Linked DNA regions of Homo sapiens. The protein of the gene in region 1 purifies or fractionates together with the protein of each later gene. This does not show direct contact. Each region holds a gene or a part of one and is shown in the gene's direction. Other genes may lie near its edges. The genes, in order: PPID, GNPDA2, GPALPP1, MOB2, PSAT1, PTGES3 and PKM.

Region 1 (3,500 bases):
CTCTGTCTCCCAGGTTCAAGCTATTCTCCTGCCTCAGCCTTCTGAGTAGCAGGGATTACAGGCGCGCGCTACAACACCCGGCTAATTTTTTCTGTATTTTTAATAGAGACGGGGTTTCACCATGTTGGCCAGGCTGGTCTCAAACTCCTGACCTTGTGATCCGCCCACCTCGGCCTCCCAAAGTGCTGGGATTACAGGCATGAGCCACCGCACCCAGCCTGTTAGTTGCTATCTTAAAGAAATATAAGTAAAAGGATCAGGTGATTATTAGCTGGAAAAATGTTATAATAATTTTGGGTATAGGAGCCAGGATCTGCCACTTTTTTTTTTTTTTTTTAACTTTTCTACAATGGGAAAGACAATTAGGGTAGTTTTAAAGGAGATTTTTATTATTTCAACTTTCATTTGGTGATCTTTGCTAGTTTACGTTAAGTCTTCCTATACCTGCAAAACTGTTCAGTTGGTATGTATAGTAGTACATAGTGGAATGAGGATAATAAGCCCAAAATCTTGTCTGGATTGTAGCATTAACTAGAGGCTTGGCCTTGACTTTGTTACTTAACTTTTCCACACGTGTTTTCTCCTGTCTAAATTACTTATGGGTTTAGACTAGATTATCTCTGAAGACCCTTGTGTACTTAATGTCTGTGAATCAAAATGACCTTAATATTGGCTGGGCATGGTAGCTCATGCTTGTAATCCCAGCACTTTGGGAGGCTGAGGTGGGAGGATCACTTGAGACCAGGAGTTGGAAACCAGCTTTGGCAACATAGTGAGATGCTGTCTCTATTAAAAAAAAAAGAAAAAAAGAAAAACCCCTAAACGACCATAATACTACCCAGCCTAAGTGACAGGGTTGTGAGTGGGAGTTGGAAGCTCAGTTACTTGTAGGAGGTAGGCTGTCACTCAGTGTATGACAAGAATAGTAGTAAACCGGAAGCTCATGCCCCACCTAATGCCACTTACATAGACAATGATAAAATTGCCAACTTATTCTGTGTTTATTGAGCTCCTGAATAGCAATAAAATGCTTATGTAAATACTAACATTGTCGTATTAGTTGGAATGTATAAAAACAGCATTATAGTACATAAATGAGCCTTCTCACATAAATCTGTGAATTGGACAGTGCTGCACATGACTTCAGCTGTATAGCTTTTATCTCTCATTATTACGATAGTGCACTTCTACAATTTAGGGTTATTTTTACAGTTGTGCGTTATTGCAGAATGTGGAGAATTGAAGGAAGGAGATGACGGGGGAATATTCCCAAAAGATGGCTCTGGCGACAGTCATCCAGATTTCCCTGAGGATGCGGATATAGATTTAAAAGATGTGAGTACTTTCAGATTAGTCAAACTTTAATTAATTTAGTAAGTGAAAATATTTAGTACTAAAAGTTTGAGCTTTTGTTTCAGTCTCTCATATGATAGAATCTAGCATTAAACCACATTACTTACTAAAATCCAACATATTTGTATTTTTTTATACAGGTAGATAAAATTTTATTAATAACAGAAGACTTAAAAAACATTGGAAATACTTTTTTCAAATCCCAGAACTGGGAGATGGCTATTAAAAAATATGCAGAAGTTTTAAGGTAATATTATTTCTAACAAATTATTTTTAAGAAATTATAAATTGAATTATAAACTAAAATTAAGAATTGCTCATTATATTTTTGCAAATTACTTGTGGAATAACCAGGTGTGTTGAAATAGTTGCATTTCCTTTTTTTTCCCCTCAGCTTGTTTTGAGAAATTTCAAAAGACAGAAGTTGAACGAGTAGTACATAATTACTCATAAGTTTTACTTACATTCACCAATTTTTAACTTTTGCTGTTTACGTTTTTACAGAACTATTTTGATAGGAAGTTGTTGATACTGTGATACTTTACCCTAAGTATTTCAGCACGTATTTCCTAAGAAACAAAGACATTCTGCATAAGTTCAATACCGTTAAAACACCCCAAAGTAATATTGATAGATAATATCAATCCATATTTAGGCTGGGCATAGTGGCTCATGCCTATAATCCCAGCACTTTGGGAGGCCAAGCTGGGCGGATCACCTGAGGTCGGGAGTTCGAGACCAGCCTGGCCAATATGGTGAAACCCCATCTCTACTAAAAATACAAAAATTAGCTGGGCTGGTGGCGCACGCCTGTAATCCCAGCTACTTGGGAGGCTGAGGCACAAGAATTACTTGAACCCAGGAGGTGGAGGTTGCAGCAAGCCGAGATTATGCCACTGCACTCCAGCCTGGGCGACAGAGTGAGATTCTGTCTCAAAAAAAAAAAAAAAAGTAATCCATATTCCAACTTCCCCAGTTGTTTCAATTTCTTAGAAAAATCAAGGGTCCAAACTAAGATTATGTGTTATATTTAGTGGTAGTATCTCTTACGTTTCCTACCTCCCCTGGTTTTTTATTCATTTGCATTTTTGTGGAGTCCAAGTCAGTTGTTTTTATAGACTTTCATCTGTATGTGTTTGTTTCCTTAAGATTAGTTTGAGGTGAAATATTTTGGCAAGAAGACTTAGGTGTTGTTTTGTATTACCTATGATATCACATCCTGAAGACACATTTCGCTTTGGCCTGTTTGAGTTCACACACATGGTTAAAGTAGTGTCAGCCACAAGCATTTGTTAGTCTGAGGTGGTATCGTGAAATTGTATGAATTTCTAGTCCCCAACAACTTTTCACACAGTGGATCTTAGCATCATTGAAAATCCATGCCTGAATCTGTTATACTGAACTTCTAAGTTTATCATCGTACAGTTATTAACTAGCATTCTTCTGTTTGCAAGAGCCTCCCGCATATTTTTTAAGTATCACTATAGACCTGTGGATATTTTTCTTTTCTTTTTTTTTCCTTTTATAGAAACAAGGCCTCCTTTATATTGCCCAGGCTGGTCTGGAACTTTTGGGCCCAAGCAATCCTCCCTCCTCACCTTCCCAAGTAGCAGGGACTAGAGGATATCTTATGGGTAGTTTTCAATTCCGTTTGTTAGTACGCTATTATTGTCATTCTTTTTCATGCCCAAAGGGTTCCAAATTTGTTCAGTGGAAGGCCCCTTTCCTTTGGCATGTTCCTATTAGTCTGCGAGCACTTGCTTGCTCTAAGCTCATCTTACCTTACTTTCACATCTGATATGGCAGTTTCTCCAAGGACCTCTGATTTCTTTTAGAGAAAGAAAACTTTAGAAACCAAATTCTGGGGGCCAGGTGTGCTCAGTTTTGGGGCCCTTTTCAGGGACAATGCAAAATCAACACAATAGAGTTCTCCTTCATCTTTCCTCTACTGAATTCCCTTCTCCTATTATGAGAATCCTGGTTCCAAACATAATTATGTTGGAAAGTACATAGTGGGGACCTGAGTTTTAAAAATAGAAAAGTGTTACTAGTGCATAATTAGATTTGGGAATTGCTCTTAAATTGGCCTCTTTGAACACTTTGGGGAACAAAAACAATTTTTTTTAAGCCTTCTTAAAAATTTTAAA
Region 2 (3,500 bases), about 110 Mb from region 1:
ATGCAACATCTGCCTGAGCACTGGTTGTCAAACATTAGTGTACATAAGAATCACCTGGTATCCACACCTAGCTTGCTTCTTTAAATTTAGGGATTCTGCAGTTTGAACAAACATAACAAATTATTCCATATAGTTTGTCCTTTCCCATGATATGAGAAATAATCTCCTTGAGAGTAGAACAGGTATGATATAACTAATCACATATCAGATCAAGTCTATTTAAAGACCAATTTGTTTTATCTATGCCTTAGCCATAGATAAACACCAATAATGAATTCTTCATCCTATACTAAGCTTCCCTTCCAGCAGCCTCCTTTCCCTCCACTCCCTTCATAATGGTAATGCCAGGTATGTACTTACCTTTTCTCACCAATAAAAGTTTAGTTGTCTTTTTTTTCCTCAGTATATATACTTCATGTTGAGATTTCTTGCCACCTGTCCCATTACCTTTTTAGAGTGTGCATCCATAATGAAAAGACTCTTAGCTCATATTGTCTAATTGTTAGAACTTTTACAAGAGGCAATGTAATGTAATTGTTAATCGCTAAGAATATGCACTGTAGAAAAAAACTACTTGTTTGTATCTTACCAAAACCTTGGGCCAGTTACAGAATATGCCTCAGTTTCCTTATCTTTAAAATATGAGTAAGAATAGTATTTCTCTCATGGTGGTGTTTTGAGGAGTTGAGGTAATTCAAGGAGAGTGCAGAGTATTTCCTCCCATTTTAGGTCTAGTTATAAAATATGTAATACAAAATTTGTTATATTTTAGAACTACAGCAATTTTAACATTGTTTTTTAAAACAATTGTAATGAGGAAAAAAAGTTTAAAGATTATATTACAAAAATATGTGTGTAGATGAGGTGTTAAATGGGATCAATTTCCAGCTTAAACATGATAAAGAAAAGATTCCGACACATACACATTCACATTTGCAACATGTCATTGCATTATTTCATTGGCATTTAGGGCCTGGGGACCAAGAGCTTGGATTTTCTGTAGCTTATAAGGGTAATATCAGTCATATGTGATTATAAGACAGTTCCTATGTGCTTATAAGACAGTTCCTATGTTTAAGTAGATCCCTAATCCTTTTTTAAATCCAGTTTTTATTCTGAGTCAACTTTGAATAGCACATGTTCAGTGAAATGCTCTTCAGGCTTTTCTTGATAACTCTTCAAATTACCTGTTGTTTTAGAGTCTTTGCTTTTCTGACATAGTATCTTTTGCTTATCTAGACTACAGCAACTTGGTGTATCATTCTAGATTGTATAAATTATTTATAGATTTGTAACTCTGCTTTTGCAACACAGTCCTTTTGTTTCTTTTTCTTCATTGTCCCAGGTTTCTTTTATACATCATCATTCACTATGTTAAAAGTTACAGGTATTATAGTGTTTGCATTAATAACCCATAACAAGATATTGTTTTGCTTTGTTAAACTAGAAGCAACATTTTGTGCTTGTTAATCTTAAAAAGTAGAAATGAATACCTTGAACTATTATGTGGAGCTATGTATTTTTCTTTCTCTCAGAAAAAAATATTGGTGCTTAAGTTCTCGTTTAAAAAAAATAGAGCTTCTTACTCATTTGGAACAAGTTTTAACAATTGATGTTCATAATTTTTCAGGTAATGATCCTTATAACAGGGGCACACAAGGCATTTGCCCTGTACAAAGCAATAGAAGAAGGAGTCAATCACATGTGGACTGTTTCCGCTTTCCAGCAGCATCCCCGGACTATTTTTGTATGCGATGAAGATGCTACTTTAGAATTAAGAGTTAAAACTGTGAAATACTTTAAAGGTGAGCACTGAATTTCAAAAGCCGACTGAGATAATCTGTTGTGAGTGACAATTAAAACTTACTGTGACTGTGGGGTTAAATCTCACACTGTGACCTATTGAAAAGTGGCAACACATAGCTAGTTCTTTCAAGTAATGGAAAGTTCTCACCTCAGATAATAGTATCTTCAAAGTAGTACCTTTTTTTTTTTTTCATGAAGAGAATCTCTTCAGTCTCTATTTTCAGTAAACAATTTTTCTTGAAATCCAAGGTTTAATAATTTACTTTCATATTGAATATACAAGACCAAATAACCCAAAAGAAAATGTATCTTTGTCCATTCTGGATTTCTTTTCATGTTTACTAGTCCCACCTCAATCCCTCTTCCTCACTCCCCTCTAACCTTAATTTAGAACCTAATCAGTGGATAAGAGATCTCCCACTATCTAATTTAATCTTTACAATTTTAAGCCAATTTATTCCCATATATTAAAGTTATAATGTCTAAATGTTAAAATAGTATGGAATAAACTCTGCAAGTAAGCAGGAGTTTGATTGCCCAGACTTCATGTTGATTTTCCTTTTTCCTGTAGTCTAGTTCAGTAATTCAGAAACCTTACTCTACCAGGCTGTGTATTACAAAACACATATGCTTGATATAATGGTTTTAAGAGATTTTCAAGGGACATTTTGCCTATACCCAATGTAGAACCTATTCTCTGATTTAAGAGTCAGCTCCACATATTACACATATGTAAGCAAACTGTACAAACAGGTAATTTTCATAAAGCACCTGTATTTACATAGCTGATATTAAAAGTTACATAGTTGATCATATAGATAGGTCAGTGATTCACTATGTAGTATGTATGCTACTTTTGCTACATGATTATACCTTTTAATCTTTTTTACTCTAGTAACTAGGTATTTATTTTAATGCCTATTGGAAAATACACTGAATAAATCAAAGCTATATTTTTTGGATATTATTGCTTAAGACAAGGTCCAAAAAAGCTACCATATTTGATTGGCTCTAATACACGTTGATCTTGCTGATGTTGGACTGTGTCTTAAAACTGGTGTCAGATCATAGCTTACTGGGTAGCATTTTTTTCTCAGTGGTACATAAAATGGTGTGTCTTACAATTTATAGCATCTCATACTCAGAAATAAAGTATATAATCTTAAATTTTTAATTCAATGCAAAGAAAACCAACTCATATTTCATGTATATGTGTGAATATGGCAAATATCTTGAAGGTGTTATACAAATAACTGACATTTGGCAAGCACTGAAAATAGTCTATTTTTAAACAAAATGCTGATCATGCTTTGTATATAGTTTTGTATTTGTACTTATGTTTCATGAGCATTTTCCTGTTTTACTAAATATTTGGAAGCATTTTAATGGATAGTTAAGTACATAAATCATAATTTATTTAAACATTTCCTTATTAACACTTAGATTATTTCTAGTCATTTATATTTTTACCATTTAAATTACTAATTTACCAAGCCACAAATATATCAAACTGAAAAACTGAAAAACTGAAAAATTTCTGATTTGTGAATAAAAGAGCATTTGATGGAGTTTTAACTCTATTTTCCCATGTAACCCTTCAGATTTCATCCCAAATAATAGATTCCTTGACTACAAGGAATCCTCACTATCCACAAATTTTAATTCCAGTTTTAAGGAGATTCATTTAACATGGC
Region 3 (3,500 bases), on another chromosome or scaffold:
TAGGGGGTCTGTATTGTGGCGTATACTGACTGACACTTTTAATATTCTTCTCTTTTTTCTTGAGACAGAGTCTCACTCTGTCACCAGACTGGAGTGCAGTGGCGTGATCTTGGCTCACAGCAACCTCCGCCTCCCGGGTTCAAGTGATTCTCCTGCCTCAGCCTCCTGAGTAGCTGGGACTACAAGCATGTGCCACCACGCCCAGCTAATTTTGGTATTTTTAGTAGAGATGGGGTTTCACCATGTTGGCCAGGATGGTCTTGATCTCTTGACCTCATGATCCGCCTGCCTTGTCCTCCCAAAGTTCTGGGATTACAAGCATGAGCCACTGCGCCTGGCCCCTTTTTTCTTTTTTATATCGCCATCTCAGTATTCTATCATTTCATGATGAAATAGTTGTTTATTTTGAACAACTCAAATAGAAATTAATGGTACTATGTGCTGAATGTTACTTTTTTATACTATTTTTCCGTGATTATTTTTAAAAGGCCAGGTTTTCTTAGATGAGTTTTATCTTCATCTGCTTATTATCTTTTTAAAAAATGTATATCTCGTTTGTTTCTTTAAAAATCCATGGCAATTTTTTAGTTGTAATAGCACCAGGTGTGGTGGCTCATGCCTGTAATCCCAGTGCTTTGGGAGGCCAAGGCAGGAAGATCACTTGAGGCCAAGCGTTCAAGACCAAGCTGGACAACATAGTGAGACCCTGGTCTCAAAAAAATAAATAAAATAAAATTTAAAAATTATCTGTGCATGGTGGCAAACACCTGTAGTCCTAGCCATGCAGGAGGCCGAGATGGGAGGATCGCTTGAGGCCAGGAGTTCAAGGTTACAGTGAGCCATGATCACTGCTTTCTAACCCAGGCAACAGAGCAAGACTAAATAAATAAATGAGTGAATGAATACATAAATAAAAGGTATGTGTGTACGTTATAATACCAAGAACAGCACATATTTAGACCATATTACACATCTAATTGCTTAAAATATATAAAAGAATAATAAAATTTTTTCTTGATACAAACCTATCCAAAATTGGCCAATAGTATACAATTGATAAATTACATGGATAGCAGTCACATATAAGAAGAGAAAGAAGCAGAAGAGGAAAAAACATATCTTCCCTCTTTAATGTACTTAGAATCAAGAAGATGAAAAGAGCCAATCACTCCTGTGGGGTCACACATGAGGTTAGAGGTCACATATAGTCTCTAAATTATAAATAAATTGGGGAACACTTACATACTAAGACATTAAGTCTTCTTTAGTAAACCCTAAACAGCAGTTGGAGATAGGAATCCCATCCATGATGCTTGATGTTTTCCTTTTTGCTGTAACGCAGCATGCCTTAGAGTTATTCTTTTCTAAGGCATGTTATTACCTGTTCTATAGTAATGCACCAAGAGAGATAGGAAAAATTTTTTTGAAATAGGCCAATGATTCCAAAACTAGCCTTAGTTTCTCCCCTGAGCTTTACACTGTAATAATGTTTGGCTATGTCCCCACCCAAATCTCATCTTGAATTATAGTTTCCATAATCCCTACATGTTGTGGGAGGGACCTGGTGGGAGGTAACTGAATCATGGTGGTGGTTACCCTCATGCTGTTCTCGTGATAGTGAGTTCTCATGAGATCTGATAGTTTTATAAGGGGCTTCTCCCCCTTTCTCTCTGCACTTCTCCTTCCTCCTGCCATGTGAAGAAGGATGTGTTTGCTTCCCCTTCCACCATAATTGTACGTTTCCTGAGGCCTCCACAACCATGCTGAACTGTGGCTCAATTAAACCTCTTTCCTTTATAAATTACTCAGTCTCAGGTATTTCTTCATAGCAGCATGAGAACGGACTTACACACCCTATACACCCTAGTATGCCCAAGTACCACTGATAGCACCACCTAAATTTTTAAGGCTGTATGAAACTTAAAATGTGAAAAACAAACTCTCAACTCTCCCCTCCCAGCCTATTTTCTTCCCAGCCTTCTCCATATTAGAGAATACCATTGCCCTTCACCTGCCTAGCTAGTCAGGCACAAAACCTAAGACCTATCCTTGGTTCCTTTTTTTTTTCTTCTCACCTCTAACATCCAAACCATTAGCAGTCCTCTTTGCCCTTACATCAGAGTATGTTGCAAATCAAACCTTTTTTTTTTCTTTCTTTTTTTTAGATGGAGTCTTGCTCTGTCGCACAGGCTGGAGTGCAATGGCGTGATCTTGGCTCACTGCAACCTCCACTGCCAGAATTCAAGCAATTCACCTGCCTCAGCCTCCTGAGTAGCTGGGATTACAGACGCACACCACCATGCCCAGCTAATTTTGTATTTTTAGTAGAGACAGGGTTTCACCATGTTGCCCAGGCTGGTCCCGAACTCCTGACCTCGGGTGATCCGCCCACCTCGGCCTCCCAAAGTGCTGGGATTACAGGCGTGAGCCACCACACCTGGCCCACACCATTTTTTATCAGCTTTCTAATGCATATCCCCTGTTGCTGATCTCTCTTGTCTATTGTCCACAAGCTGACAGTTTTTTGTTTGTTTGTTTGGTAATTCATATCATGTCTGTCCTGACCCACAACCTCCCAATGACTGCCTGTTGTAATTAAAATCCAAACTCCTGCTGGATGTGGTGGTGCATGCCTGTAGTCCCAGGTACTCAGGAAGCTGAGGCAAGAGGATCGCTTGAGTCCAGGAGTTCTGGGCTGTAGTGCGCTATGCATTCTGGTATCCACACTAAGTTCAACATCAGTATGGTGACCTCCGGGAGTGAAGGACCACCAGATTGCCCTAAGGAGGGGTGAACCAGCCCAGGTCGGAAACAAAGCATGTGAAAACTCTGGTGCTGATCAGCAGTGGGATCGCACCTGTGAAAAGCCACTGCACTTCAACCTGGACAACACAGTGAGATCTCGCCTCTTAGGGAAAGGGAACAGAAAAGGGAAAGGGAAAGAGAAGTCCAAACTCCTTATTGTAGCCTGTACTAGCATTTATTGAGCACTTGCTATATGCCAAAGACTTTGTTAGGTGTTTTGCATATATTAACTGATATAATCTTCACAACAGTCCTGTGAGGTTGAAACTATTATTAACCTCATTTTACAAAGCAAGAGTGTAATAGGAAGGTTAAGTAACTTATCCAAATCACACAGCTAGTAAGTGGCCAACCTGGAATTCAAAGCACAGAGTCTGCCTCCAAAGCAAGAGTCTGGCCCCTTTATACCATCCAACTTGATGTCGTCATTTTGCTTTTCTTTAGCCACACTGGCCTTTTTATTCCTCAAGCACATCAGGCTTGCTCCCTGCATAGGAGTTGTGCACTGGCTGTTCCTCTGTCATCTCATCATTTAAGTCTCCATTCAAATGTCTTTTTCTCAGAGAGATTTTTGCCTTACCACTGTCTTTAAAATTACCCTCCCACATATACAGTGTCACCTTTTTCCTATTTTCATAGTAGCATTTACACTATCTGAATTGATCTTAATTCTTTTAATGTTTGTTTCTCTAGAA
Region 4 (3,500 bases), on another chromosome or scaffold:
AGAAGTCTTGGCACAGGCCTTCCACAACATCCACCTTCCTGTGGAAAGGCCACAGGCTGGGCCAGTGGCCCAGCTACCCAGGTCCCCAGTGGGGCCCAGAAGGTGCAGGAGCTGGTGGGGGTTGATGGGCTATGTTTCTAGGGACAGAGACGTTTCCAGAAGGAATGCCCTAAGATTGCAGAGAGCCCTTCTCCGCTGGCTCCCGTGACAGCTCTGGATGGGACAGTGAGGGCTGGGCTGGGCAGGCCACAGGTCCTTGCTCGGCCATTCATTTCATGGGGGCTCAGTTACCTTCTCCGTGACCATCCAACATGCCTGGTGCTGGTAGCTCTCTCCTGGAAGCACTGCACCCTGATTTCCTCAGTAAATGGGTGTCCGTTAGTGGCCCTGAGCACCTCACTTGCGTAGCATGGGAAGGAGCGCCGCCAGGCCTGGGTTGCTGAAAGCAGCCTTGGAGGCTGCAGGCAGGAGGAGGCTGGGTCTGCTGGGCTTAGCCTGGGACATGTGCGGCTGAGGAGGGCGGAAGCTTTTCCCTGATGTCCCGTTGTTGTCAGTGCACACAGGTCAGGGACAGAATGTGTGCCTGTGAGTGCGTCCTGAAAGTCATCCTGCCCACAGACATGGCTTTCCTGGCCCTGGCACAGGGAGACGTGGTCCCCAGACAAAGCTGAGTTCTGCCTTCAAGAAGCCAAGGGGAGCTTCTGCACAGGCAGCTGGCAGGCGTCCCCTTGGCTTCAGTCCTGCTGGGCCCTGCCCTCATGGCCATGATGGGTCACAGCTTGGTTTGGTTATGGGTGACACCGGGGCAGGTACAGACAACAGCTGGCTTCACTGTCTTAATTCCCCAGGAAAATGAGGTGTCACAGCCAGGCATGGCCCAGGAAGATGGGGACAGTGCTTATGGCTTTGAGGGGAGCAAGCTCAATGTGAGACGGCGGTGGCCTCCATGGATCAGGCATGGAGATGGGTCCTGAGGTGGCAGGGCAGCACCCGAGAGCTACTCGAGAGCCTTGTGTCCACTGTGGCTCTGGAGCCACCTGTGGCCAAGTGCTGGCTCAGCGCCTCTGCTCCTGGGCAGACGGGGCCTGGCACCCTTCCCAGAGGCTCTGCTCCTGCATGTTCTGTGGTACTGGGTTGGTTTGGAAAAGGGGTCCTTGGAGGAGTGTAGGATGTGGTGTTGGGCAGACCTATGTCCCCTTGGAGGGCCTAGGCCACCCAGATTTGCCTCTTGGTCCTTCTCATCTGGAGCTGGCATCATGGTGGTAGTAGATGTGTGTGAATTAATTGCATGTAATGCCTTTCCAGGAATCCTTTCAAACCAAGGGACAGAAATCCACTCAAACTAAGAGAAACATGGAGACTTCTCAGAGGGCCTCAGGGCCACTTGCCACCCAAAAGACCAGCAAGTCTGCCTGGGTCGTGTGAGGGCTCTGGGATTGAGGCGCGTCTCCTCCCTGCTAGGGCCTGTAGGACAGTCCCAAAAAGGCTGATGTCTGACTCCTAGGGAGACGAGAAAGGGGGCGGGGCCGGAAACACATTGCAGCAATAATGGCTGAGAACTTCCCACAAAGACACAAACCTGCAGACTTAAGAAGCTAAGCAAACCCCAAATAAGGCTCACAGACACGTGCAGATGCATGCAACCAAATGCTGAGAACTGGGGGCAAAGAAAAAGCCCTTGGCAGCCATCCTCTGTCAGCAGTCAGACGGCGGTGGCCTGGTACTGACAACAGATGCCGCAGTGAATGACCGTGGCACTTTTAGAAACCCAGGAGGCCAGAAGGAAGAAGGAAGCCCCACACATCTTCCAGTGCTGGGAGAAAAGAAAGGTCATCCCAGAATTCCACATCCAGTCAGTGTCCAAAGTCACTCAAAACCAAGAGCCCTCACAGCCAGCAGACCTGTTCCAGAGGCTCCCTGCAGAGTTCTCCCAACAGGAGGGCCTCCTCCCACTGAGTGTTTGTGGAGACGCCAGTGATGGTGCAAGAAGACAAGAGTAGTGTCCGGCAGTGCCTGTGCAGTGCCGTTCCCAGGGCGGCCGTGGGGCCTGTGCAGTGCCATTTCCAGGGCGGCCGTGGGGCCTGTGGTGGCGGTGGGGCTGTGGCGGCTGTGGGGCCTGGCGGCGGTGGGGCTGTGGGCAAGAGAGCTGCTATGCTCCAGTGGAAGCACATGTGTGGGTGCCATGGAGAGCATGTGGGGTTGAGTTGCGTGTTACAGCCCTTTGAGCAGGCCTTGCAGAGCTTATGTGAAGAGACGCAGTCAGAATCAGAATAGGTAAATTTAAATGAAATACAAAAACATTTCAGTGGCCCAAGAGAAAGCAGGAAAGAAGAAATACCATAAGGAATGAGAAACAGAGGCAACAAACAGCAAATAGTGGAAAACCTAAATGCTAACAGATGAACAGACGGGACTGGGCAGCTTATGAGAATGTATTTTTAAAATAACCAACTCTCTGGTGTTTACAAGAAGCTCATTTGTTGTATTTCATTCGGGATGCTGTCACGAAACATGATAGGCTAGGTGGCTTGTGAACAACAGAATCTTATTTCTTGCGGTTCTGGAAGCTGAAAGTCCAAGGTGAAGATCCACTGTGGACCAGGAAGGGGGCACTGACCACGTCACTGGATCTGATTAGCCAGATTCAGTGTCTGGTGAGGGTCCCTTTCCTGGTCCACAGACAGCACCTTCTTGCTGGAAGGAAGGCAGGGCGACGGAGCCACCAGTTCTGTTCATGAGCGTTCTACCCTTGCAACCTCATCGCCTCCCAAAGGCCCCATCTCCAGATACCCTTGCGTCTGGGGTTAAGCTTTCAACATAGGAATGTGGGGCATAAGCACCCTGTGTGTCACACCACTCTAGGTGCTGTGGTGCAGGCGGGTGAGAAGTAAGAGGACAAGATGTGCTGAGAAAACACCCATCAGAAGGAAGCGGAAGTGGCTATGTCAGTGCCAAAGGAGACTCCGAGGAAGGAAGTGACCAGGAATAAGAAGGTTATCTAATTAGAAAAGGAGCAGCTCTTGAAGAAATCCTGCCATAAATGTGTGTGCGCCAGACAACAGGGCTTTCCACACAAAGCAAACGGACGGCCTGTGTAGAAATCACATGATCGCCGGGGATTGCAGCCCTCTCCTCAGTGATGGAGCCTCATAGACAGTCAGCGAGAGCACGGAGCCCGATGACCCCACCCGTGGGTTGGATTGAAATGACACATGCACTGCAGCCTCAACAGCAGAACACCCATCTTTTCAACTTCACAAAGATTAGCCACCAAGATGGAGCATACCTGTCACAAAAGAGCCCTTAACAAATTTTAAAAAATCAAAACCATACGAAGTAAGTTTTCTGACCATGGTGGGGTTAAATTAGAAATCAGTAACAGAGAACAGGAAAGTCTCCAAACACTTGCAGACTAATACAATTCTGAGTAGTCCATGGGTCCGAGAGGATGCCTCAACAAAAAAACTTTAACAAACTGTACACAGGAAAATACAGCATGT
Region 5 (3,500 bases), on another chromosome or scaffold:
CCAGCTGCTAAGAACCTCATGGCCAGAGTCTCCTAAGACCTGCTGGTTGCTTGCTATCCTACTAAGCACTGAATATAGGCCATACATCTTTCAGGACAAGATATTTACACTCCTACCACCCCATTCCCCAAGACCCTGCCACATTGCCCTGCCCTTTATTAATTTACCTCTGTATCTTTGCTGGAGCTCTGTTCCCTGGCCATCTGGCTTCCGTACACCTATTCCCAGGCTCTGACCTTACTCAGTGGCTTGGGTCCAGTTTCCATGGCCTTGTCCTTTTGGAGCTGGGCTTATTTCTACTGCCTGTAGCCATTCTCATCATTATCTTACTTTTTCATCCTGGAGTCAAAGAATTTTGCTTTTTATTTTGATGTATAATAGATACATGATTTCATGGGTAGGCCTAAAACATTATCGAAACCCCCTGCCCAACATCCACCTGGTTCATAGCATGTTGCATAACACAGGATTATTGGTTGCAAGTTATAGGACCCCCAACTCACTGGCTTAAGTAAAAAAGAAATGTATTATCTCACCTAACAGATAAATGCAGGAGAATTTAGGTGCTTCTAAATGACTGCAGGAAGGTGATTTTCCCCCATCTTCTGGCTCTGCTTTCTTATGTGTTCTCTTCATTGGGTGGCCACCATTGGTTGCAGGATTAGCTCCTACAAGTTTCTTCTTTCCCTCAATAGAAACAGCTTTCCTTACCTAGAAGTTTGAGTAAAGGTCTCAGTACCAAATTCCATTGGCCAGCCTGGGGCAGGTACTCATCCCCTTGAGCCAGGGTTGACCACAGTTGAACCATGTCGACTGAGAGTGGCAGAGGGGTAATTTCCTAAAGGAACATCAGGCTGTTGTCACTAAGAAGAGGAGGAAGAGCTTCAGGTCAAACAGTAACCCTAGGCTTTCAACACAGTCTCCAGTAAATAGTTGTCCAAGGATTGCATAAATAAATGAGTGAATTAGGGAAGACAAAGTAGTATTGTAACATTACCATATTTCTTGTAGTAAATCCACCCAAGTTAAAGCACTTGGTAGAGCATCACTTGTTCTCAATCTTTGACCACATGAGTTTATGTATTGACTGTTACCTATGCTTCTGCCCAGAGCTGTTCCAGACAACTATAAGGTGATTTTTCTGCAAGGAGGTGGGTGCGGCCAGTTCAGTGCTGTCCCCTTAAACCTCATTGGCTTGAAAGCAGGAAGGTGTGCTGACTATGTGGTGACAGGAGCTTGGTCAGCTAAGGCCGCAGAAGAAGCCAAGAAGTTTGGGACTATAAATATCGTTCACCCTAAACTTGGGAGTTATACAAGTAAGTTCTGGGAGCTGAGCTGGGTGGTGACGTGCTCAATGGTGGGTTACCCCGACCCAGGGCAATCTGTAGTTTTCAATTATTTTCTCCCCTTGACAGTGTTAGTTCATTACCATTTAGATTGGGTGGCTGTACTAGCTAAGACTAGAGCCTATGCATACTCTTACTTTATTTTATTTTCTATTTTTTTTCTAGACAGAGTTTTGCTTTGTCACCCAGGCTGGAGTGCAGTGGTGCAATCTCAGCTCACTGCAACCTCCGCCTCCCAGGTTCAGGCGATTCTCCTGCCTCAGCCTCCCAAGTAGCTGGGATTACAGGTGCTGGCCACCACGCCTGGCTAATTTTTGTATTTTTAGTAGAGACAGAGTTTAACCATGTTGGCCAGGCTGCTTTTGAACTCCTGACCTCAGGTGATCCGCCTGCCTCGGCCTCCCAGAGTGCTGGGATTACAGGCGTGAGCCACTGTGCCTGGCCTATGCATACTCTTCTTGCAGAAGCTAGTCAGTAGTTAGTAGTAGTTTTTCAGCTAATTAGCTGAAAAAGTCCAGGGGCTGGTTTGGCTTTAGATATGGCTTGATCAGGGGCCCCAACAATGTCTCCAGGACCTGGTGGCTCCACAGGCAGAAAAAGCTGTCCCTTTCTTGAAAGGTGGCTGCAGCTGCTCCTGACCTTATATTCTCCCAAGTTTCAATGCCTTTATGGAGCATTCCCAGTAACGGTCTCATGTCCTGTGCCCCATTCTGAATCAGTCCCTGTGGCCATGCCTGAGTTGCATTCTACCTCTGGGCTGTAGGTTTCATTGGCTCCCCTGGAACTACGTGGGCTGAGAGTAGGTGAGGGCTGGGGTTCCAAGAAGAAACTACTAGTCCATCAATGGATGTAGGATAGATGGATACTGGGCGACAAGTAAAAACTCAGATATCTCCCATGCCTTTTGAAAAAATTTACTTTATTTTATTTTGTTGAGACAGAGTCTTTCTGTGTTGCCCGGGTTGGAGTACAGTGGCTCTTCACAGGCAGGATCATAGCACACTGTAGCCTCCAGCTCCTGGGCTCAAGTGATCCTCCCACCTTAGCCTCCTAAATATCTGGGACTATGGGCACATACCACCATGCCCACCTTCCCATGCCATTTTTGAAGATGATTTGTTCCCAGTAAAAGTCGAAAGGTTGGATCGCTCATCCTCTCAGGATGTTGATAACGATGGTAACAAAGGATGAGGCTGGGAGGTTGCTTTCACTCGTGCAATGCTTTGGAGTCAGTTAGTCTTTCCCTGCTAGGGGAGGCCTGTCAGTCTCCTGGTTGACTCCCATCTATGTAAGGAAAGAGGAGAGTGAAAAGTGCAAAGTCTCAAACTTGTCTTCTGTGATAGAAATTCCAGATCCAAGCACCTGGAACCTCAACCCAGATGCCTCCTACGTGTATTATTGCGCAAATGAGACGGTGCATGGTGTGGAGTTTGACTTTATACCCGATGTCAAGGGAGCAGTACTGGTTTGTGACATGTCCTCAAACTTCCTGTCCAAGCCAGTGGATGTTTCCAAGGTAGAGTATAAAAGGCAGGGTGAGGGGAACCCACTGACTCGGTGTCTGCAGGGACATTTTAATATATACAAGAGCGGGAAGAACCATGGGTGTTTGAGGCCTGCAGAACCCCTGAGCCAGTGCAGCTGCCAGTGAGCAGGCTGCCAGGTGCGAATTCCCAGCTGTTGCAGTGCCTGAGTCCTGCTGTTCCCAGCCTCGTGGTGATGTTTGCCTCACAGGGTCCCACTCGAGTCCTTGGGGAACTACCTGCTTTTGAGAGTGGTTCTTAGAAACGTGTTTGGTCAACAGACGGGGAGAGACTTGTCTTCAAGAGCAGATGCAGATTATCCCGAGCCCAGGGGACCTATGTGAGGGAGCTTCCCCTTGCCTGGTACCCACCTCCAAAAGCATCAACAGGATACCGTTTTATGAGTGGCTTGCCAAGGCAGGGCAGTGGGACTGGCGCTGTAGGTACATGCCCCAGGGTGCGATGCGGGTAGAGAATCTAAGAACAACAGTTGAACTGACTGAGTGGTATTCTGCCTTTTTAATTGGGATAAAATATAACAAATTTTACCATTTAATATAAAATATACCATTTTAACCATTTTTAAATATACTGGTCAGTGGCATTGAGAGCATTCACATTGTTGTGCAGG
Region 6 (3,500 bases), on another chromosome or scaffold:
CTGGGACTGTAGGGGCATGCCACAACACCTGGCTAATTTTTGTATTTTTTGTAGAAAGGGGTATCACAGTGTTGCCCAGCTTGGTCTTGAACTTCTGGGCTCAAGCAGTCTCCCCACCTCAGCCTCCCAAAGTGCTGGGACTACAGGCATGAGCCACGACACCAGCCTAGTCTTTTTTTTTAGGTAGTCTCATGCCACTCATGCCAGAGTGCACTGGTGTGAACATGGCTCACTGTAGCCTCCACCTGGGCTTAAGCGATCCTCCCACCCACCTCACCTCTCCAAATAGCTAGGATTGTAGGAATGTGCCACCACGCCCAGGAAATTTGTTTTTTTGTTTTTTCCCCAGATACAGGATCCACTATTGCTCAGGCTGTCTCGAACTCCTGAAGGATTACACAACTAGTCTTTCCACCTTGGCCACCCAAAGTGTTGGGGTTACAGGTGTGAGCCACCTCATTTAGCTTAGTCTATTCTTTGTGTGCTAATTACATGCCCTCCTAAAAATACAAAGTCACAGTTCAAAAAATATTGTTTTGCCAGGCACCAGTAGCATGTGCCTGTTGTAGTTAAAAGCTACTCTGGAGGGTGAAGTGGGAGAAATACTTGCGCCCAAGTCTGGGTTGCATTGCCATATGTCAGGTAACCACGCTAAGTTAACATCAGTACGGTGTTGTCCCAGGAAGCGGGGACCACCAGGTTGCCTGAAGAGGGTAAACAAGACCCTTGGTCAGAAACGGAGCTGGTCAAAACTCACATATTGATCAATAGTGGGATTGCACCTGTGAATGCTTGCTGCACTCCAGCCTGGGCAACATAGCAAGACCTGGTCTCTTTAGAAGAAAAGAAAACGTAGTCTTAAGGTTCATGCCAAATGCAAATTAGCCTAATCTTAGGGTGATATTTGTATTGATTTATAGCTTAATTGGCTTAGTGTCGACTTCAATAATTGGAAAGACTGGGAAGATGATTCAGATGAAGACATGTCTAATTTTGATCGTTTCTCTGAGGTAAGTTCCTTTAAATGGACCTCTCCCCATTCGAAGCACACGGTACCTGTCTATGTAGTCAATTTAATATGGTTTTGGGCACCTAATGGTATTCATGATGCATGTTATTTTATTTTTAAGACCATTTTGCAGTCATAGTAAATAGATGTTAACAATGGCAATTTTAATCCTGAAGTTGAACCATTTTAATGATTTTAAAAGGAATTAGTGTTAGCTACAAAAGTTACAAAAGTTAATGCATTAAGACAAACTAACACAGCTAGTTTGCTAATTTCATCATTGGGACTTTTTTTTTTTTTTTTTTTAAAGCATGATTGCAGTAGTTGACTTGGATTTTGAAGTCATAAAATAAGACTATAAACTTTTGGCCGGGCACGGTGCTCACACCTGTAATCCCAGCACTTTGGGAGGCCAAGGCTGGCAGATCACGAGGTCAGGAGATCTAGATCATACGGGCCAACTTGGTGAAACCTCATCTCTACTAAAATACAAAAAAAATTAGCTGGGCATGGTGGCGCGCACCTGTGGTCCCACCTACTCCTGAGGCTGAAACGGGAATTGCTTGAACGCTGGAGGCAGAGGATGCAGTGAGCCGAGATCGTGCCACTGGACTCCAGCCTGGCGAAAGAGCGGGACTCGGTCAAATAAATAAATAAATGCAGAACGATAAACTGTTAAACACAAGAATCATAGGCTGGGCGCGGTGGCTCACGCCTGTAATCCCAGCACTTTGGGAGGCTGAGATGGGCGGATCACCTGAGGTCAGGAGTTCAAGACCAGCCTGACCAACATGGTGAAACCCCGTCTCTACTAAAATACAAAAATTAGCCGGGTGCAGTGGCGGGCGCCTGTAATCTCAGCTACTCAGAAGGCTGAGGCAGGAGAATCGCGTGAACCCAGAAGGCGTGAACAAAATTAGCTGGGCGTAGTGGTGCATGCCTGTGATTCCAGCTACTCGGGAGGCCGAGGCAGGAAAATCACTTGAACCCGGGAGGTGGAGGTTGCGGTGAGCCGAGATCGCTATTGCACTCCAGTCTGGGCAACAAGAGCAAAACGCCGTCTCTAAATTAATAAATAATTAAATAAAACTACAAAAAAATAGCTAGGCGTGGTAGTGCACGCCTGTAATCCCAGCTACTCCGGAGGCTAAGGCAGGAGAATTGCTTGAACCCAGGAGGTAGAGGTTGCAGTGAGCCGAGATCACACCACTGCACTCCAGCCTGGGCGACAGAGCAAGACTCTGTCTCCAAAAAAAAAAAAAAAAAAATTCATGGTGAAATGTTTACCATGAGATATACAAGGAAAAAAGTTTAAGAAAGTCTGTTTTCTAAGATGTCACCCAAATAACGTTGCCATGGCCCAAGAATAAATGATTCATCTCTATATAGGCAGAATAGACTTTATCAAATGTAGTAGAATAAAACTAAGTACAGAAAGAACATTAGTGTATAAGTCGAATGCATACTGATGAAATCCATTTCTTGTTGCTATTTGAAATTTTTCATTAACTAGATTTTGTATTTTGAGACCTTAAGAGTTAAATAAAAGGAGCTAAGTTTCCAGCTTTATGCAACTGCTTATTTAACAGTTCTCCACACGTGACTCTGGCATGGTGATTTCAACAGGAAGGGAGGATGTTCTATTCATATTATTTTTTAATTGTACTTTCCTTACCTGTAGAAATCGGTGCCACCATTTACCTAGCTGTGCAAGCCATTGTGTTGCTTAGGCAGGTCTTGAACTCCTGAGCTCAAGTGATCCTCCTGCCTCAGCTTCCCAAAGTGCTGGGACTACAGGCCTGAGCCACCACCCCCAGCCTTATAACACTGTTTTTGTTTTTTGTTTTTTGTTTTATTTTGCTATCTTTGTTGTCCAGTTTTTGTTGTTATCTCTTACATATCTCTTGAATATGTACAGTTTTCTCTTGCTGTTTATCTTAAGCACGTAGCGTTATGCTTGGTACATTTAGCATTTTTCCTGCCCAAAGAAACTTAAAGTATTGAGTAGTGCTTTTGGAGGTAGGGAAACTCCCAGTTACTCATTTCATTCAAGATAGATTGCCCAAAATTTTTATACTGAATCCTTTTTTGTGTGTGTTTAATTAATTGAGGTAAGAGCACTTCACATGAAATCTACTCTTTTAACAGACTATTTATTTATTTTTTTGAGGCAGAGTTTTGCTCTTGTTGCCCAGGATGTAGTGCAATGGCACGATCTTGGCTCACTCCAGCCTCCACCTCCTGGGTTCAAGCAATTCTCCTGCCTCAGCCTCCCAAGTAGCTGGGATTACGGGTGCCCACCACCATGCCCGGCTAATTTTTGTATTTTTAGTGGAGACAGGGTTTCACCATGTTGGGCAGGCTAGCCTCGAACTCCTGACCTCAGGTGATCCACCCGCCTTGGCCTCCCAAAGTTCTGGGATTACAGGCATGAGTCACCAGACCTGGCCACGCCCAGCTATCTTTTAAGTGCATGATACAGTATTGTTAA
Region 7 (3,500 bases), on another chromosome or scaffold:
TCTTGAACTCATTTCTCAGTTACTGACTTGAGCCAAAATGTATGGATGTTGGTCTCCTGTCTAGCACAACTGCTTTCATTTTAAGCATTGCATTAGAAATAATGTTGTATTCATATTTTAGCAAAGAGCATCATTAGCTCTTTAAGAACCGTACCCCCAGTGACTTAGCAAATTTGGTGGCGGTGACTCTAAACAGCTAGCACTTTATGGGAGTTGCTTCTGTGCCTTGAATGTTGTGACACTGATGTGGGGTCACAGGAAAAACCATTTTATTTCCTAAAGCTGTTTATTTCTTAATATTGAGGCAATGGAAGAAATGAGGAAACGGCCGTGGGCAGGAAGGTAGAAGAAAATGCAGCACTTACATTACAAACTCACTTTACTTGGGTTTTAGTTTATTTTGCTTCAGTTTTTTGTTTTTTTTTTTTTTTTTTTTTTTTTTTTTTGAGATAGTTTTGCTCTTGTTGCCCAGTCTGGAGTGCAATGGTGTGATCTCGGCTCACTGCAACCTCCACCTCCTGGGTTCAAGCAATTCTCCTGCCTCAGCCTCCCGAAGTAGCTGGAATTACAGGCACTTGCACCACGCCCAGCTAATATTTTTGTATTTTTAGTAGAGATGGGGTTTCACCATGTTGGCCAGGCTGGTCTTGAACTCCTGACTTAGGTGATCCACCGGCCTCGGCCTCCCAAAGTGCCGGGATTACGGGCGTGAGCCACTGCACCTGGCCTGCTTCAGCTTTTATGAAGGCAAGTCAGGATGTGTTATCTTGGCCAAGAGCTAAGACTGAGACCGGAGTAGAGGAAAATGACTCATTTGACATTACCCTTCTTTCTGAATCACTCCAAAAGTCCACAGTCAAATCTCAATTAGCTGGTATAACACAAGAATGCGTTGACCCTGTGAGCAGAGTTTTATTGCATCTTCAAGGGTCTTCGTGAGATTGGTTTATTTGGTATGAGGTCTTAAGGATTTTAAGTTGTCCCTTTAAGCATCAGTTCTGATACAGATGGGAATAGAGCTAAACAACCAGATATATGAAGACCATTTTTGATACCACCATACTTGCGGGGAGCTTGCATTTTTTTACCAAGGGGCAGACTGGATAATTGAGTAATTTAAATACTTGGGACTTTGTTAAAGAAGCTGTTGGGGGAAGGTGAGCCTGGGTGAGTGGTGGAGGGTGATGTGCAGCATCTGCTGGGCCTTCCTGCCTCTTGGTATGACTGCTCAGCTCAGGAGTTGGGTGCTTTAGGGCCCCTACCATGCAGTGCGGTGAAGCCCCGCCCCTGCAGTGGTTTGTGCTTGTCTGCACGTAGGAGGGAACAAGCCGGCTGCAGTACCTTCGGTGGCCTCTGAGACTCACCTCCCCCACTTCTGTCCATAGACAAAGCTCCTGGGGAGCCCTAAGCCTCTTTCCTCATGCCAGCAAGCAGTCTTGGAAGCAGGCTGGGGCTGCAGTGGGAGAGATGCCAAGACCAGTTATTCAAGGGCAGTGAGGTTGCCAGTCCTAGCATTTCACACTGTGGACCAGCACAGCTGCTGGCTGAATACTGCAGTCAAGATTCTCTGAAGGGAGTCCTATCCCTTCCAAACATCTTCAGTTTACTTGCAGATAATGTTTCTTCATTTTTTATTTTATTTTATTTTATTTTATTTTTTTGAGACGGAGTCTCGCACCATGACCCAGGCTGGAGTGCAGTGGTGCAATCTCAGCTCACTGCAAGCTCCGCCTCCCGGGTTCATGCCATTCTCCTGCCTCAGCCTCCTGAGTAGCTGGGACTACAGGCAACCGCAACCACGCCTGGCTGATTTTTTTTGTATTTTTTAGTAGAGACGGGGTTTCACTGTGTTAGCCAGGATGGTCTCAGTCTGCTGACCTCGTGATCCACCTGTCTTGGCCTCCCAAAGTGCTGGGATTACAGGCATCAGCCACCGCGCCTGGCCATGTTTCTTCAATTTTAAACAACTGATATCTCCCTTGGCCATGAACGAAAAAGAACTGCCCATCAGTGGAGTCAGTCAGGGCACATAAGACACACTGTGTCCACCATGCCATTTCAGAGGAGATTTGATTGAGTTAAGCAGGGAAATAGAGATGTTGTAAACGTTGAAACTATCTGGGTATCCCTCTTTGGTTATTAACATTAGATGAGCAGAAAAACAAATGTCACCGATGGGCAAACATTTAAAAAGTCTGGCAGTACCAAGTGTGGAAAAAGGTGTGGAAGGCAGCAACTCAGCGTTCATTGATATAGCCACTTTGGAGAGCAATTCAGCCTTATTTAGTAAAAATAGAAATAAACATACTCCATGACCTAAGACTTCAATTTCTGGATATATAGAAACTCACACAGTACAGGGAGACATGTACTACAAGAGTATTGATTAATAGAAGAAACTTAGTTTAACGGGGAGGGAGAGTGGCCACCAGTAAGACAGTCCATAAATAAAATGGTCTGTTGTACAGTGGACTAGTGTAACAGCTTAAATGAATTAGCTAGATCCATATACCCACTGGATGGATCTTAAATGTGCTGCTGAGTGAAAAACAAGTTACTCAGTGATATATACAGTATACCACTTAGGGCATTAAGAAAACCACAATATTATAGGGTTCAGTATAGACATAGATACACTGTACATAGACTTCAGTGAACTGGAAGGATATAGAGTTCATGACAGTGATTGGGTGTCAAAATGCATGATGTGGCTGGGAGCAGTGGCTCACACCTGTAATCCCAGCACTTTGAGAGGCTGATGCAGGAGGATCACTTGAGGCCAGGAGGTCGAGACCAGCCTGGGCAACATCGCAAGATTCCCATCTCTATTTAAATAAATAAAATAGAAAAAAAAGTTTAAGATGGAGGTGGAAAGGGTTGGAGGAGCTTGGGGATGGAGAAAAAATGAACTGTATAAAATTAAAATTCTTGTTTTTGTTTTTAGAAAGTAAAGAGGGCCGGGCACAGTGGCTCATGCCTGTAATCCCAGCACTTTGGGAAGCTGAGGTGGGCGGATCACGAGGTCAGGAGATTGAGACCATCCTGGCTAACACGGTGAAACCCCGTCTGTACTAAAAATACAAAAAAAAAAAAAAAAAAAAATTAGCCGGGCCTGGTGGCGGGCGCCTGTAGTCCCAGCTACTCAGGAGGCTGAGGCAGGAGAATGGCCTGAACCTGGGAGGTGGAGCTTGCAGTGAGCTGAGATCGCGCCAGTGCACTCCAGCCTGGGCAACAGAGCGAGACTCCATCTCAAAAAAAAAAAAAAAAAGAAAAAAGAAATTAAAGAAAATACAGCTCAGCCTTTATTTGTGTTTTTTTTTTTTTCCTTTTTTTCTGAGACAGAGTTTTTCACTCTGTTGCCCGGGCTGGAGGGCAGTGGTGCGATCTCCGTTCACTGCAGCCTCCACTTCCTGGATTCAAGCAATTCTGTGTCTCAGCCACCCAAGTAGCTGGGATTACAGGTGCGCGCCTGGCTAATTTTTGTATGTTTAGTAGTGATG

Evidence for each region.
Region 2: the proteins of PPID (region 1) and GNPDA2 fractionate together in Homo sapiens (co-fractionation; one large-scale study listed by BioGRID). This does not show direct contact.
Region 3: the proteins of PPID (region 1) and GPALPP1 purify together in Homo sapiens (affinity purification with mass spectrometry; one study listed by BioGRID and IntAct). This does not show direct contact.
Region 4: the proteins of PPID (region 1) and MOB2 fractionate together in Homo sapiens (co-fractionation; one large-scale study listed by BioGRID). This does not show direct contact.
Region 5: the proteins of PPID (region 1) and PSAT1 fractionate together in Homo sapiens (co-fractionation; one large-scale study listed by BioGRID). This does not show direct contact.
Region 6: the proteins of PPID (region 1) and PTGES3 purify together in Homo sapiens (affinity purification with western blotting; 2 studies listed by BioGRID and IntAct, with this or other methods). This does not show direct contact.
Region 7: the proteins of PPID (region 1) and PKM fractionate together in Homo sapiens (co-fractionation; one large-scale study listed by BioGRID). This does not show direct contact.

Annotation. Positions count from the first base shown.
Region 1 is NC_000004.12:158,713,397-158,716,896, reverse strand, and holds part of PPID (peptidyl-prolyl cis-trans isomerase D), read left to right. Parts: intron 1-1,212; coding exon 1,213-1,335; intron 1,336-1,493; coding exon 1,494-1,600; intron 1,601-3,500. UniProt on the Homo sapiens protein: PPIase that catalyzes the cis-trans isomerization of proline imidic peptide bonds in oligopeptides and may therefore assist protein folding. Proposed to act as a co-chaperone in HSP90 complexes such as in unligated steroid receptors heterocomplexes.
Region 2 is NC_000004.12:44,706,057-44,709,556, reverse strand, and holds part of GNPDA2 (glucosamine-6-phosphate deaminase 2), read left to right. Parts: intron 1-1,630; coding exon 1,631-1,805; intron 1,806-3,500. UniProt on the Homo sapiens protein: Catalyzes the reversible conversion of alpha-D-glucosamine 6-phosphate (GlcN-6P) into beta-D-fructose 6-phosphate (Fru-6P) and ammonium ion, a regulatory reaction step in de novo uridine diphosphate-N-acetyl-alpha-D-glucosamine (UDP-GlcNAc) biosynthesis via hexosamine pathway.
Region 3 is NC_000013.11:44,999,538-45,003,037, forward strand, and holds part of GPALPP1 (GPALPP motifs-containing protein 1), read left to right. Parts: intron 1-2,612; exon of another isoform or gene 2,613-2,910; intron 2,911-3,500.
Region 4 is NC_000011.10:1,476,780-1,480,279, reverse strand, and holds part of MOB2 (MOB kinase activator 2), read left to right. Parts: intron 1-3,500. UniProt on the Homo sapiens protein: Stimulates the autophosphorylation and kinase activity of STK38 and STK38L.
Region 5 is NC_000009.12:78,303,625-78,307,124, forward strand, and holds part of PSAT1 (phosphoserine aminotransferase), read left to right. Parts: intron 1-1,110; coding exon 1,111-1,316; intron 1,317-2,689; coding exon 2,690-2,862; intron 2,863-3,500. UniProt on the Homo sapiens protein: Involved in L-serine biosynthesis via the phosphorylated pathway, a three-step pathway converting the glycolytic intermediate 3-phospho-D-glycerate into L-serine.
Region 6 is NC_000012.12:56,667,785-56,671,284, reverse strand, and holds part of PTGES3 (prostaglandin E synthase 3), read left to right. Parts: intron 1-920; coding exon 921-1,010; intron 1,011-3,500. UniProt on the Homo sapiens protein: Cytosolic prostaglandin synthase that catalyzes the oxidoreduction of prostaglandin endoperoxide H2 (PGH2) to prostaglandin E2 (PGE2).
Region 7 is NC_000015.10:72,224,691-72,228,190, reverse strand, and holds part of PKM (pyruvate kinase PKM), read left to right. Parts: intron 1-3,500. UniProt on the Homo sapiens protein: Catalyzes the final rate-limiting step of glycolysis by mediating the transfer of a phosphoryl group from phosphoenolpyruvate (PEP) to ADP, generating ATP.